Regions from separate parts of the Homo sapiens genome. Here region 1 is linked to region 2. The links come from fine-mapping of genetic effects on gene expression. A gene starts in region 2. The other region holds a variant in brackets. All regions are shown on one strand. Distances are from middle to middle. Region 1 overlaps ASB2 (ankyrin repeat and SOCS box containing 2). Region 2 holds the start of ASB2 (ankyrin repeat and SOCS box containing 2).

Evidence for each region. PIP is the estimated chance that this variant, and not a neighbour inherited with it, causes the effect.
Region 1: its variant is the best candidate, but not a certain one, in a credible set for the expression of ASB2 in whole blood (TOPMed, PIP 0.74).

Annotation. Positions count from the first base shown.
Region 1 is chr14:93,948,877-93,956,876 of GRCh38, forward strand. It overlaps ASB2 (ankyrin repeat and SOCS box containing 2), which reads right to left. Exons shown (of 10, transcript NM_001202429.2): 3 at 7,890-7,994; 4 at 5,441-5,607; 5 at 4,476-4,631; 6 at 2,123-2,368. Among named protein-coding and RNA genes, the nearest start is that of MIR4506, 4.6 kb to the left of the region's middle. RefSeq lists enhancers at 5,022-5,999, 6,110-6,816, 6,817-7,521. The variant G/T (reference allele first, on the strand shown) is at 4,443.
Region 2 is chr14:93,972,017-93,980,016 of GRCh38, forward strand. It overlaps ASB2 (ankyrin repeat and SOCS box containing 2), which reads right to left and starts at 4,554. Exons shown (of 10, transcript NM_001202429.2): 1 at 4,418-4,554. It overlaps LOC107984663 (a long non-coding RNA gene), which reads right to left. Exons shown (of 4, transcript XR_001750861.2): 4 at 5,409-8,000. RefSeq lists an enhancer at 3,035-3,606.

The sequences.
Region 1 (8,000 bases), 23 kb before region 2:
CGGCAGTGAGCCGGGATCACACCACTGCACTCCAGCCTGGACAACAAAGTGAGACCCTGTTCCCAAAACAAAAACAAAACAAAACCCAGAAAACATTAATCCATGCTGCTAGAAGGAGGAATCAGGCCTGGTGACAATCTGCCTTCAGCTCAGTCTTCTACACCTGCTTCATCTCCTCGGGCAGGGGGTGAGGGGGAGAACTGATGTGCACACAGCTTTCTCTGCAGAAAGAGAATTCAGCAGTCCTTCCTTGTTCTGGAAGGACATGGAACTAAGATGCTTGAAGATGTCAGTGGGGCTAAAATCAAAAGCATCTGCTAACCACAGGTCATCTCTCTAAGCATGTTGCTGATCTCAGGCTTTCTGGTAATTTATTATTTTTGATGATGGTGTGACCAGTTTCTGATCCAGCGGAAACAGCACAGGCTTTGGCGACAGATGAGAATCAGCTGAGGCATCTGTTTCATGGCTCACAAGCTCTGCAGTCTCAGAAAGCCTTTAGGAGCCTCGGTTTTCTCATCTGTTGACCAGGGATAATAGTACCTACCCCTCGGGGTTACTGCAGGGAGTAAACAAAATAGTGTAAGCACATCTCTCAGCGCAGTGCCTGCCACAGGGAAGCTGCTCAGCAAATGCCAGTTGCTCAGGATGGAAGGAGCTGGGCAGAGGCCTTCGTCCTGCCTCCGGCCTGAGGGAGAGCCAGTGAGCCGCCCTAACCCTCTGTTGGGCTCTCAGAGGCAGGTGCCCTGGAGAGCCTGGACCCTACCAGCAAAGCCGCCTGCTTGCACAAGAAAAATATTTGGGTTGGAAAATGGACTCAGCCCACAAAGTGAACACACCCTGACTCAGAGTGTCGGTGGGAGACCTGGACAGATGTTTGGAGTTATTGAGGTCACCCTTGCCTGCTGAGCATGCTGTCCGTCACCAGGACCCCCGGCCTGGGCTCCCAGGACCCTGCCTGTGCCCCTTTGTTCTTACGCTGGGCAGTCCAGATTTGTTCCTGGCTGCACGGAAGGGCCTGCACCTATGTTCCCCACTGCTCAGGCGCGTGCTGAGTGCATGGATGCTTACCTGGGCAGAGTCCCGTGCTGCCGACTCTCACAGGGTAGGGTGGCTGGCAGAGCACAAAGCATGTGCAGTTTGGAGTCAGATGGCAGTGGGTCAGCATCCAGGCTTGGACTGTGACCAATTAGTTAACCTCTCTGAACCTCAGTCTCTTCATCTATAAAATGGGACGAGCATACTACCTACCACATGGGGCTACGGGGAAAGCTCCATTGCCCCGATCTGTGTTCACACTTAGCAAGTCCTCAACAGATTCCTACAGTTCAGCCTCAGCGTCTGGATTACCTCTGGCTTCTCTGTTGCTAGAGAGAGGGTTACTTCCCGTGGAGAGAGAAAAGAAATCAAAGGCATTCTTGGGGAAGATCAGGATATAATGTTCTGAAACCAAAAGCAAGTCTGCCATGTCTCGTGGTCTTTTGCTACTGGGCCATCATAATGCAGGCCGTATTGTGTTATTTTCTCCCATTAAGATATTTCACAGGCAAAGAGGGCAAAGAGCTGGGTTCAAGTCCCAGCTCTGCCACTAATTTGCTGTGTGACCTTGGACAAATCACTTTCCCATCCTGGTCCTTGAGTTCATCACCCATAAAAGGGGGAGGTGATCTAAATGTTGCTTGAGGTTCCTTCTGGCCCTGAAGTGTGATGTGGTGGAAAGAGAAGCGGTTGGGGTGTCAGGAGACCAAGAGTCTAGCTAGTTCTACAATTAATTTGCTATAGGACTATAGATAAGTCACTTCCTCACTCTGTGCCTCAGACTCCTCGTTTGTAAAATGAAAATGTTGGACTAGATTATAAATGGCAAATAGGTGGTCCGTGGGCCAGACCCCCCCATATTTGTTCTAATGGCAGATGTCACTAGTGGATCCCGACGCTCTTCCCACTGAGCCTGGACACAGCCTCAGCATCTTTCTCAACACAGCACTCTAGGAGGAAACTCTCACTCCATCAGTGTGCGCACAAGATGACCCCTAACTCGCCTTCCCTTAGAGCTGACCTCTGACATCCTTCCCGTGTGCCCTTTGGGGACTCCATGACCTAGGGACCCTTAGCCACTCACCGTACTTGGCTAAGAACCTCAAGGCCTCCAACTGTCCACTCTGGGCGGCCACGAACAAGGGGGTGATGCCGTAGGCGTTCTTGGATTCCACCTTGGCTCCTCCGCTCACCAGGATCTGCATGACCTCCAGGTCATTGCGAGACACAGACTCGTGCAGAGCGGTCCAGCCGCGGTTGCAGCGGTGGTTGGTGTCTGCATTGTGCTGCACCAGAATCTTCACGGCCTCCGCGTTCTTGCGCTCGCAGGCTGTGCTCAGGGGGAAGCAGGGATGGTCAGCAGGGCCTGGCAGGAACTGGCCAGCAGAGACTGCATTCATTCGCCTGTCCATTCACTCATCCACTCATTCAGCTTTCCACTGCATGTGTATTAAGTTCCAATCCCTGCATTGAACCTGGGATAGGCGACTAAAAGTAATACTGATACTAACATTAGCAAGAATACTTGCTGATTCATATGCCTAGTACTGGTTCTGTGCCAGGCTCTCTGTTCTAAGCACATTTTACAGGATTAACTAATTTAATCCTCCCAAATCCCCTTAAAGGATGTAGTGATGTTATCCCCTTTCACAGATAAGGAAGGTGAGGCACAGAGAGGGTAAGTGGCTTGCCCAAAGTCACACAGATACTAAGTGGCAGAACTGGAATTCAAACCCTGGTAGTCAGGCTGAAGGTCTCTGTCCCCTGGGATGTCCCAGGATGTCCCTATCATTTCCCCTTCCAGTGGTACCTGCTTCAGTCCTCCACATTACCAAGGCTGGAAGAATCTTTCTAGATGAGGAGTCAGCGGTGTCATAATCCTGCTGAACTTCCCCCTGCTCCAGCAAAGGCTACTAATTTAGTTCAGGGTAAAATGCACGTTGTGAGTACAGCTCCTCAAGTCTTTCTTGACCTGCTCTAACCTCCTTTATAAGCCTCATCTCTCTCTAGACCCCAAACGTGCCCTTGGCTCTGGCCCCAGAGTTCTCACCAGGAGCTGCAGGTGGTATTGGAGTCACCTGGGCACTTTTCCAAATTAACCAGCCCTGGAAGCTTCTCTGTGTCCGTGTCAGTGGGAGGAGGAGTGAGGAATGGGTCAGGGAGACTGGCAGCAGGGGGAGGAGGGCTGCCTGTGTACTGTTTCAAATAGAACCATAGGCCAAGCCTTCTACCTCTCTAAGCCTTGACTTTCTCATCTGTAAAATGGAGAGAATAAAACCTTCTTGAGCAGATGCTATGGGAGTGAGACTGTGTGTAAGGCATGAGCATAGTGCTTGGCACATAGTAGGTGTGCTTGCAAGACCAGGGCCAAGCTCTGGCTGTGGGCTGCCCAGCTTCCTGGGCACTCCCTTTGGACAGCTGAGGTTCCAGGTGATAGCCATGGCGCCCTGGCAGGCACGGATTCCAGGGAAGACACTTCCATGGTGGGTCTGCAGCGGATCCAGTGACCTACTACTCAGTTCCTGCTGCCCAAGCTGTTCCAAGCACTGGATAGACACATGGGAAATCAGGGATATCTGTAATTTTTCCAAGTACAAAGGCCTGATCATTTGTAAGACCCCAGCTGATTGCTTCAGCATGTAGGCATGGACAGGATGCTTTAGAATGTAGTAGTTGAGGGCAGTGTGACATCCACCTCCCTGAGTTTAAACCACTGGGGTACCCCTTGCAAGCTGTGTGATCCTGGGCGACCCATTTAATGTCTTGGTGCCTTAGGTCCTCATATGTGAAAGGGGATACCAGCAGTGCCTACTTCATGTGCAGATGGACATGAGGGGTCCATAAGAGAACGGTGCCTGGCACATACTAAACACTCAATCAATGCTAGCTATTGTGATTATTTAGACTTTGACTCTGGGTACTGCTAGGGCAGCCAACAAATGTCCATGGATGATGTACTGAGTAAGCCAGGAGGCCTTGTTTTTCTTAAACAAATGTCCCAGAGGTACATGCTCTCGCATACCTTCATGCCTTTGCCTGTGCGGTTCCCGCTGCTTGGCCAGCAGGTGATTCCTCCTCTGTGGTTCAGCTCAGGCACCCCTCCTCTGGGTGCCCCTCCCCCATGCTCCCACAATGCCTCCTGCCAAGCCCTTTCCTGCTCTCTGTGTGTGGGTGCCTACAGGGCTGGGAGGGTGCACAGGTTGGACTATAGCTTTTCAGCTCCAAGCCCTCAGTGTCCCTCAGCATCCTGGCCCATGGGATGCAGTTGGAAAATGTTGGTAAAATACATGCAGGAATGAATGATTCAGTTACATAAATTGTGCATTTGAGCAGGGCCACGTTGGGGGTTATGCACTTAACGGGAGCAACATTCCCTGTTGCTCACCCAGCTTCTGGATTCTTCC[G/T]CAGGAAAGCTCACTCCGGGGTGGGGACCTCACCTTTGTAGAGCGGTGTCTCTCGGGATTTGTTGGAGATGTCCGGCTCTGCCCCTGCTTGGAGCAGTGACAGGAGACAGTCCAGGTGGCCCCTGCACGTTGCCAAGTAAACGGCTGTTTCCTCCTGCAGGGTGCGCTGGTCGATGGTCCCTGGGTACGCTAGGGAGGGCCCACCGGGAAATTCATGTAGGAGAAAGATACTCAGCCCCGCAACACAGAGGCTTTCCCGATTGCCTCCCAATTTCAAGAACAATGTATGACATCCTCTGAAATTTACCAACTACAGACTGCATTCATCTGGCCCTTTCACAGGGCCATTTTAGCTTCCTGGTCGTACACGTCCAAGCTCAGATGCCACGTCCTCTGAGAAGCCTTCCCTAATGGAGCCCCTCCCTCTTCGAATACTCCTGTCCTTTCCTCGAACTCACACCAGCCATTGCTGGAAACCCACTGTTACATGCCATGGTTTCTTGGAGTGTCGGGGGCCGTGTGGGGTCTGTGCTGCTTCAGGGCAGAGGTGACACCTGCCTGCAGGAGTTGCCCTTCTGAACCTGGCTCAGTAGGAAGACAGGGCTCAGAGAGGAGGCACGGCTGTCCCGCGGTCCCACAGCAGGTGGGGGATAGCCTTGGCCGGGCACAGGCACAGCTGCAGTATTTTTCACACCAAATCAGCCCCTGGGACATTCTGGAACAAGTTGGCAGTGGTTCTTCTAAAAGTCAGCCCTCCCTCATTCCTTTTCTAGGAATTAGGCTCTCCTGTCCTTGGAGGCCTGGAGAGGTGGCAGCAGGGGGTGGGGACAACTCATTTCCCCTCTCGTAACTCCATGACTAACTGACAAATGAAAGTGACAGCCTTGCCTGCCCTTCTCCCAAGATGATTGTGGGCAAAGAACATGAAGCCCCAGGAGCGGCAGCCCTTCCCCTAGTCCCTTTCCCACCTCTTGCCACCGTCAGAGCCCAGCCCTCACCTCGCTGCAGGACTTTCAGGCAGCCCACCTGGCCATAGTATGCGGCCTCGTGCAGCGGCAGCCAGCCCTCCTTGTTGGGCTCTGCGAGATTCTTCCCTTCCTTGATCATGGTCTTCAAGGCCTCTTCATCGCCATCCTTGATGGCCTTTATCAAGGGGTCCGCAGGCCTGTGAGAGGAAGGAGTGGGTCAGTCCTCAAGGTCAGGCCAAGGCCAGGCCAGGGGGCCTCTCTCTCAGGAGTGCTGGCAGTGGAGTCACTCGGTCCTCGTCCCTGCTGGTTCCAGGATGAGCACTCAGCCCCCTGCAGCCCAGTGGCTGCAAGAGGACTGGGGGATCCCTCCATCTCTGTGGCTTTCCATGGCTGCCGGGAATGTTATACCAAAACCAATTCTACCAAGAGGATTCAGGCACACAATGCCAGCCTCCTAGAGGGTGGCTAACCACCCACATGTGAGGCACTTGTGATAATTAAATGCTTTCCCTGAGTATAGCACTCTAGCATTTACCAGGCACGCCCATCTCGGGGGCCCCCTCTTAACCCTGAGCATATCTCTGGGGTCTTCCAACTCCTCTCCTTGCCCTGTCGCTTATTCCTACTCCCAGTACATCCAGCTGCAGAAAAAAAATATATACTGGAAGGATTAATAAATTTGAAGCCTTCACAGTTTAAAACTTCTGAATGTCAAAAAGATTTGAGGGCTAAAGTGAAGCCGTTCCTTGCTTGGCTTGTTAAAGTCCCTTTGTTCATTCATTGCTTCCTTCCTTCCTTCATTCATTCACTGAGCTCCCTACCTCATCCTTGGAGAGTCCGTGAGAACCACGATGTCTATGCCTCTCAGATCCACTTTTGGGGAGGCTTCTGCATCAATAGTCCCATTTCCCAGATGGAGAAGGTGAGGCTGGAGGCAGGCCTCATTCCCAGGACACCCACGCCATGTTGGGCTAGGATGGGCTCTGGGCGGTCTCTGCCACCAGCCCCTGCACTCTCCCAGCCACTTCCTCCAGCGTGAGCAGCACTTCCTCCTGACTCTCAGACTCTGTGGTTATTAATGGTGTCAGAGCACAGATGCCGGTGAAGCAACAGACCCAGCAAGGACGATGGGAAACTGATCAGATAAGTCCTGAGGTCCCCATCAGCACCGTCACTGCCACCTTGACGAGTTCCACTTAGGAACAGCCAGAGCAGCCCCTGTCAGCATCAGGAAAAGCCCAGTGGGGGTATGTGCCCCCCTTTTCCTGGAGTGTCTCCAAAGGGACCCCAGCTGAAGTGGAAGGGAGGAGGGCTGGCTTTTCTCGTGGCCTTGGCGAGCAGGGCGTGGTGCAGTGTCGTGAGAACACTTTCAGGACCTGCCGCCCAGCTTGGGTCTCTCCAGCTGTGATGCAAGGACCCTGGAGCCCTCAGCCCACATATTCACAGCTTCTCCATGACCTCAGGCAAAGTCCCCGCCCTATGAGTGGGGGAGGGTTCTGGGGGTGTCAGGCCATCAGAGTAGTAAGCTGGACGGGACCCTAGAGGTCACGTTGCCCTCTCCAGCCGTGTCCTGCAGAGAAGGGAGACTCAGAGGGGACAGCGACTCTCAGGCAGTCATGCAGGAGGTGGCAGTAGCTGAGACCAGCTCTGGGTCTCCCTTTTCCAGATTGTCAACCACTCCACACACCCACCACACCAAGGAAGTGGAGGGCGACAGGATTTGAAAAAGGCTGGGAAGGAGAAAGAAAATATTGGCCAATTGCCTCCTCCCTTCTCTACAACGTAACTGAGTGAGGAAATGCAGTTCCAGTGATAGGGTCCCTCTTTTGCTTTTGGCTGCTTCCGGGGTCACTATTCCAGGGGTACAGAGAGGGGAGGGAGGCAGAATTATTTTCTAAGGAGCGCATTAGCCCTGCCCCCTGGTGCCAGGCAAACAGAGCCCCTGCAGCTTAGATTATTTCTGGATTTTAGCACCTGGCACTTCACAAATAAGGGCAAATAAACAAAACAAAGGCTGTGGGTGTGGGCATTTTGGATGTACCCACAGCGATGGCATGGGGGAAAGTGAGACTGGGACAAACAGAAGGGTGCAGCCAACTCATCAAGTTCAACTCCAAGCTCTCCTGGGCCTCTGGGGTTCTAAGGCCATCTCCCCAATTTCCCTCGTGCTGGGTCCCCAGTTTCAGAGCCCCATGGGGCTCCTCCAGCACTCAGGTCCCATGCTGGGGGCATCTGAGGGGGGGATCACCAGCATGCCTGGCTGGAAGTTCCTTGAGGACTGAAGTCTGTGGCCACCAAGCCCATCTCAGCAGGAGCAGTGGGGCCCCAGGGGGGCACCCCTAGAAGGAGCGTGCCTGGCAGGTGCCTCCATAGTGCCCTCTGCCCTCCTGGGGGCTGTGGGCCTGCTTCCCACCCTCCCTGCCATCCCAGTTAGCGGAGTGAACTTGGATGGTCCTGGGGCCAGACAGGAGTCACTTACGCCAGCTGGGAGGTCTTGAACAAGCTGCTGCTGTATTTCTGCATGACCCCTTGGAACAAGCCCATTGGGGCCCGGGCCGGCGAACTCTCAGGAGGTGCAGTGGACCTGGAG
Region 2 (8,000 bases):
AATTATATATTTTTATATTAATAATATAATATATATTATATATATAATATACACACATATACATACTTTCTATAAATCTACTCCAAAAGCTTCAAGGTCTCCCAAATATCACATGACCCGTAGCTAAGGCAATCCTGAAACCTGGCTGCTTGGGCTAGCCTGGGGACACACGAGGAGTCAGGAACTGGGCTGTTCCTTGGCACCCAGGGCGCTCGACCTCCTTCCTTGCAATGCTCTCTCCTTCTGCCAAAACTTATCTTTCTGATCTGCCTTTCCCCCCAGGATCCAGGGTGGTCCTAGGAAACCCAAGGAAACGCTTCCAGCTGGAGTGCTCGGAGGTGTAGGACATTGTTCTCTTCCCTTCCCGGGTCCTGTTGTTTTAGAACCTAATCAATAAAAATTAAGCTGGTGCCTGTGGGTCCTTGTCCTGTCTCCATCCAGGCCACTTTCATAGGTTGCCTCATTTTACTTTTTCAGTACTAGGGAGAAGAGTGGTCTTCCCATGGCGCGGATGAGGAGACTAAGGCCTGGAATGTATGTGGTACAGAGGTTGAGACCACGTCAGCCTGCGCCGTCTTCATCAGGCCCTCTGACACAACATTAAGGGCATGGCAAGGAGTCAGTTGCTCCGTGACCCTAAACCTCATCCCTCTGGAGGCTTCATCTCTGCTCTGGCTAAGAAATGCTCTGACCTTGGTAAGGAAGGGGGGATGGAATCCCAGCCACCTTGCCCTTGACCCCTATGAGTGGCCAAGTCGTAGCCAGGGTGGGCCTTTGGCCATGGGGGCAGTGCTCTCAAGCCTCTGGCTGCCCTGGGGCCTGGTGTCTAGGGCCTCACAGCTGCTAGGAGTTTGAGCCTTTGCTCAGACCCACACCATCAGCTAAGGAAAGCACCCACAAAGGCCAAGCTTCCAGTTTACCCCCAGCCACCACCACCACCGGCTGCGTCATCTCAGACCTTTTGATGCTGATTTCAAGCTCCCGGCTTTCGGGTGCCAGGGCCTTGGGGCTTCCAAGGCTGGGCTGGGGCTGCTGGAGGTGACTCAAGAGGTGTGCTCAGGGCTGCAGGCCCCAGCTGACTCCACAAGACAGGGCTCTTCTCTTTGTATGGAGTAGGGGTGTGACTGCCCCTACATAACCCTGTAGGAGGTGACAACCAGGGATTTGAACCTGTCCAAAGCTGGCTCTGCTCCCACGCCAGCAGACACTCTGTGCCCATTGTATAGAGGAGGAGACTGAGGCTGCATCTGAAATGGAGCGCCTCTTGCTGATCCAAATCTTGGTGAATCTCTCCCGAAGAGTCTAAGACCCTAACGAAAAGTCTTGGTAATTTATTTACTTATTGATGTACATTGAGGATGCCACTCCAAAAAGAGAGCAAGAATGATGGTGAGAGGAAGAGAGGGAAGAAGGAAAAACACAGGAAAAACCTCCCTGTAGAAGGTTTTTTGAATGTGGAAAGTGCCCTGTTGCAATGATGAGCATCCATTCTGCACAGGACATGCCCACTACCTGCGGCAGTGCCCACACCACCAGCTAAGAAAAGCACCCACAAAAGTCAAGCTTCCAGTTTACTTCTTTGGGCCCCTGAGCTATTGAGTCTCCAGGCCCATGGGTGACCTTCGTCTCCACCTCCTGAGTGAAGGGCCCTTCTGCTGCCTCCTGGCCCTGCCAGAGGCTGGCCCCTCCCCGCATCTGTGTGGCTCAGACACTCACAGCTCAGGACACAGGATTCCAGGCCCCTGACCCATATTCTGCCCAGGCACTACCAATGCCAGGATCTGCCATCTGTGCCAGTGACCAAAGGTGGGGGTGACAGGGGTGGACGGGGCTGGTCAGTCCACCTCTGAGCCTCCCCAGCACCCCTGCCCTAGCACAGCCCGCCTAGCCCTGTTCTGTCCTTTGGGCAGACAAAGACGGCGGACCCTCACCTTGGTTCCTTAGTGGCAGAAGACACAGGGGGTTCTGGAGGCTTTAACTCCAGGCAGCAGAGCGGGAAGGCTCAGGCAGGGCAGGGGGAATCCTCCATAGCCCCTCCTCACCTGCAGGGCTGGCTGGAAATCTTTTAAGTTAGATCTCACCCAAATCGGCGAGGTTCTTTTTCCTTTTTTATCCTCTCTCCTCTGAGTTCCCCTGACCCCGCCTCCATTTAAATCTTTCTCTTCTCTTTTCTCTGCTTTCCTCTCTCCTTTTTTACTCCTCTATGTCCCATTCTTTTTAAAAAACAGATAGTTTAGGAATTTCAATTTACCTTTATTTCAGCACCACCTCCCCAAAAACATTCCTCCCAACCACAAAGCTCTTAATAACTTCATTTATATTCCTGGGCGTTAATTATTCCAAACAATGGTGCTAAGGAAAGAGAACCACAGACACAAGCCACTCCTGTGACAGCTGGCTCCTGTGGGCAGCCTGATCCTCTGCAGCGCAGAAATGGAAGGACACTGGGCAGGCCCAGAGATATTTTTGTGCCTCCTTTGGGAAGGCTCTTTGGATCTAGCCTGTCCACAATATACGGGCACCTTATGATGCCTTGAGTGTGCCAGAGACATTTCCCCTGGGTGCACGATGGTCCTGTTTACCACTGCCACAGTACCTTGAGAGGCCACAGGACGCTGTGGCTTTGAATGTGGACCTTGCAGACCAAAAGGTCAGATTCCTGACTCCAACACTTGCAGCCGTCCAGCCTTAAGCAAGACTTTTAAGCTCTCATAACCTGTTTCCAGACCTGAAAATGGGAGTAACGATCACCTGTAACTCATGGTAGCCTTGACCGAAGTCAGTGAGAGAAATCTGCACACAAGCTTGGGCCAGTGCTCAACAAAGGCTTGCTGGTATGGCCTGTGTTGTTGTTCACTGTGAGGTCACCGTGCGTGGGTTAGACAGTGTCCCCCACCCCCGCCACCACAAGGCACTCATGACCCGGCCTGTTTGTGCAAGAACAGATGATGCAAACCAGCATGGCACCCAGCGGAGCTGCTGCCAGCTTCTTGGGGACGCTGTGCAGCACATGGGCCTGCCACCAGCTGTCAGGACCCGTCCAACTGTTTTGGAAGTGCCTCGAGCATCTGCCACTGTCTGCCTCATGGTGCTTCTGCCCAGGCAGAGGTCAGGGCTGTGGCGGGGGTGCTGGCCCCAGCTGGCTCTGCCTGCGTCCCTCTGAGCCCCCTCAAGCCCTCGCCTCACGAAACAAGCTTATCTTCAGAAGAGCATTCCTGTCCTGTGCAGGGGCTCAGCTTCTGCCCTGCTTCAGGCCTTCCTCATTTACCTGCCCTCCCTAGGAGTCACCAGCCTCCTTGCCTCCTCATTCCAGTGCATACCCCTGGCTTCCCGAAGAGCCACCGAAGCCAAATCTCACATCCTCCAAGGGGAATGGGCCACTGAAATGAAAATGATTCTCCACCTAGAGGCACCAGAAACCAAGTCATGTTTCTGGGCCTCCACCTCTGGGGCCTGAGATGTGAACACACGGGTGGGAGTGTAGGTGCCTGGCTGTGTCCCTTCATATCCCAGATGCTCAATGCATGTGGCTATGTGCATGCCGTCCTCTGCTCAAAAACTCTCAGAAAGTGTTCCAACTTCTTGCTTGGCCTGGAAGGATGTGCCTCTCCCTCTGGCCTCCCCTTCTAGCCTCACCCCCATTTTTCACATGCAGAACCCTTTGCCAGAGCCACATTTCACTTTCCATCATCACCCCAGGTCCCTTGACTTCCCTGCCTTTGCCCAAGCTGCTCCTCCACCTGGAGGTCTCTGTTTCCACCCTGAGGCATCCCACCCATCCTTTCAAAGGCCATGGCCTCCTTAAATGTGTCATGCATATGCGTGTGCACACACATGCATGGTATTCTTGCATCCCTGCATTCCACAGCTTTGTTGGATCTCACATAAATAACATTCCTCCATTTCCTCTCCTAATCCCCAAACAGTTGAAAGCAGAGCACATGGCACCTTGGCTGCTATGGTCTCCCACAATACCGTGCATGCCTAGGCACTCTGCAACAGCTACATTAAATTAACTCCCACTCATGAAAACCTCTATCTGTGCGCCTGGCCTGAAAGCATTTCTGAAAGTCACTTGTCTGACACAGATACCGCCCAAGACCTACAGACCCAACAATAGCATCATTGATAAGTCCTTTTGCATTTCCATTTTTAGAAGTGCACAGCAGAGTGATATTCTGAGCCAGAGTCCTCCAGAAGAATGGGTAAGTACATGCAAATTGCTGAGTCTCTGTTCATTGCATCCAAAACGAAAGTCACCAGCGTGCTGTATAACTCAAGAAAATACGAGAGAGAGGGAAAAGCAACATCACAGTTTGACTACAAGCGGTTTCCAGTAAGTACTGCAGCCGAAAATCCCCACCAGCCAAAGAATCTTTTGCAAGATCTGTATAAGAAAGTTGAAAGCATGCATTACCTGTTAGGCTCTGAAACAAGGGTACAATTCAGGGGTAATACAAAGGATTTTCTTGAAAGTGTCTTAATTCAGAACATGCTCCCCGAGTTTTCCTTCTGCCCTGGCCCCAAGCTTCTGGCTGCTCTGCCAGGCAGTTCTGAAACGCTGTCCTTTGAAGCAGGGAGTTTATTTTGGGGCCACCGCATGACCAACGTTGACAAGCCAAACTATAAGATGTTATACATCTCAGATTTCCTGTTTGGAGGTTGCACTGAGGAAGCTGCAATCCTGCCTTCCGTTCCTCCGGGTGCATCGAATACAGACTCTCACTTCAGAGAGGATCCCGGAGCTTTGGCCCTCACGTGATGTCATCATTTGTGATCCTTGACATGGAGGCCATATATGGGTATGTTTCTGGAACTACCCAGGGGAGAGCCAGACAGGAGAGAGATGCAGTGGGTCAGAGACAGAGGCAGGGAACGAGGACGAGGAGACGCATAGTTGGGAGACAAAGAGTGAGGAGCAAGGGAGGAGGAAGAAAGGGGAAGAGGAGAAGTAAAGGCAACAAAGGAGGGAAGGCAAGACAGCAGGAAGGAAGAGGATGGAGTGAAAGAGAAGGGAAGAAGGGGAGAGAGGAGATGAAGGAGTTGACGTAAAAGGGCTTTGGAGAAATCAAGGTTTGGTGCTGAGCTTGTGGCAGCATTTGGGGATAGCAGGTGTCTGGCTGCTGGATACTGTGGGGTGGGGCTGGGGATACAAAGGGCCAGGGTACAAATGAGCCAACAAACAAACACAGAGGCATGCGGGCAAGCCCTGGGCAGAGATATACAACAGAAGAGAGCCCTTCCTCCTGGTCTAGGGAAGAACGTCCCATTTCTGGAATAGGTCAAATGTCAAAGACAACACATACACAGCCACATGCACTGAGCATCCGGGATGTGACAGGACATGGCCAGGCACCTACTCTCCCACCCGTGTGTTCACATCTCATGCCTCAGAGTTAGGGGTCCAGAAACATGACTTGGTCTGTTCCTCTAAGGGGAGAATCATTTTTGTTTCAGTGGCCCATTCCCCTTGGAGGATGTGGATTTATGATGGCCACAGCATGATTTCTCACTGATTCAAACTCAGGAAACCTCAGGATGCCTTTACACGCACTTCGAATATTCCACAAGGAAATACATCTCAGTATACAAGGTGCCACGGGGTTGAGTCAAGGTTCTGGAGGTCTGACTGGTGCTAAAGATGGGAAGGACACCAGTGGTCCCCAGGCAGTCCCCCAGCTTCCCTGGTACCTGCCAAATTGCTCATCACCCCAGCTGGGTCAGTCTTCCCAGGCCACTGTGGCTGGGTGGCCCTCAAAGTTAGCTCAAGTTCAGCCCCTTCCAGACCCATGTGCTATGGAGGGAGTGTAGGAGAAGGGCAGAGAAGGGGCTGTCAGATTCTTTTTACTTTTTGGAGACTCTGCTACCCAGTAGGATGTTCCCCGAGAGACGTCTCTGTGGGACGGCTCCCCGAGGCCGGGCTGCTTTCCTGGGCTCCTTGCTGGAGGCAAAACACAGGTTCCTCTACTTCCTGCCCACCACCTGCCCCTTCCCAATCTGACCTGGAAGGTGGGCTGTGGCCAGGCCAGGCCCCTCCTAGGTTGCCCTCTGCCTCATGGGCATGCACACATGCACACACACACACACACATACACACCCCAAACTCCATCCAAGATGTGTCTATTCCTTCCCTCCCCTTGAATATGGGGTGGCCTAGTGATGGACTTAACAATAGAATGCAGTGGAAATGATGTCCTGAGACTTCCAAGGCTAGGTCATGAGATGCTTTGTAGCTGCCATGTTGTGAGGAAGTCCAAGCAAGCAACACCCAGGGCCCCCAGAGCATCTAGCACCAGGCAGAGGGGTGAAGACACCCTCTCGGAGGTGGATCCTTCACCTGCAGCTGCCACAGCTAATGCCACGTGGAGCAGAGACAAACCACCCACAACTTCCTGACCCATAAACCACAAGCTATGATAAAAGGATTGTTTCGTGCCACTGGGGATTGAGGTAGTTTGATATGTAGTAATAATCAACCCAGACACTCACCAAATATTCACTGCGGTCTCAGCTGCATGCTCCTCAGCTCTCGTGTGCTACCCGTGAACTTTTTTCTGACTTTCCACTTGTCTTTGTTTCCATTTAAAAGAAGAAAAACAGATTCAAACTAAATTTTTTTTTACCTCACTCTTTACAAAAGAATGTAGTCCCAAGTCATTTCCCAGTTCTTGGGTTTATCAGACCAGAAGCTCCTTTTGGCTGAGATTCTGTCTTACAGGGGAATTGTGGTCCCTCTAACTGGAGGGACTCTTGGCTATCCTGGTGTTCAGAGCCCTCATTTACTAGTTCAGGCCCCAAGAGGTTCTGTGCCTTCTCTGAGATCACCTGGCAATTTGGGGGCAGAATAATTCACACATTGAAAGCCATGCCAGTGGGAACCATGCCCCATGGGATCAGACGCTGATGTCCTAAAGCACAGACACTCTCCTGACAAAGGCAGGGACAGCGTTCAAGCATCTGACTCGAGCCTGTGGAGGGCAGGCAGTGTGACCCAGAGGAAAGAGAACTGTGCTGGGATCTGGCCCTAGCTGCTCATTAGAATCATATTACACTTACCTATGCCTGCCCCACCCCAGAGATTCTGATTTAAATAATCTGTGTCGAGGCCCAAACAGGACTGATTTTTAAAAACTTTTTATTAAAGTTCAGTATACCCACAAAAAAGTGCAACTTTCACATATGTACAGCCCAGTACATTTTCACAGACTGGACACACCCAACATCTGAATATTACAAGCACCTCAAGAGCTCCCACCACCCACCACCTCCTGCCAGGGGTGACCACTCTCCTGACTGCTAGCAGGACAGGTTCCTTTGAACTTCATGTGAATGAAATCATTGCGTCTCGTTTCATTTAACAACACATTGCGAGACCTGCCCATATTGTTTCATGGAGTTGTAGATTGTTATTTTAATTGCTGTGTAGTATTCCATGCTATGAATATATCACAATTTATTCATTCTACTGTTGATGGACATCTGGGTGGTTCCCAGTTTTGGGCGATGATGAAGAGTGTAGCTATGAACATTCTAGTACATGTCTTTTGGTAAATATTCATACTCCTTTCTCTTGGGTATACACCTAGGATGGGGATCACTGGGTCAGAGTTTAGGTCTTCTTTCAACTTGAGTGAAACTGTCACATGGCTTTCCAAAGTTGTGTCAGTTTGCACTCCCATCAACCAGGCATAAGAGTTCCAGTCACTCTATATCCTTACCAACAATTGGTAGATTCCATCTTTTTTCTTTTTTTTTTTGAGATGGAGTCCTGCTCTGTTGCCCAGGCTGAAGCGCAGTGGTGAGATCTCGACTCACTGCAACCTCCACCTTCTGGATTCAAGCGATTCTCTTGCCTCGGCCTCCCAAGTAGCTAGGATTACAGGTGCCCACCACCACGCCCAGCTATTTTTTTTGTATTTTTAGTAGAGATGGGGTTTCACCATGTTGGCCAGGCTGGTATCGAACTCCTGACCTCAGGTGATCTGCCCGCTTCAGCCTCC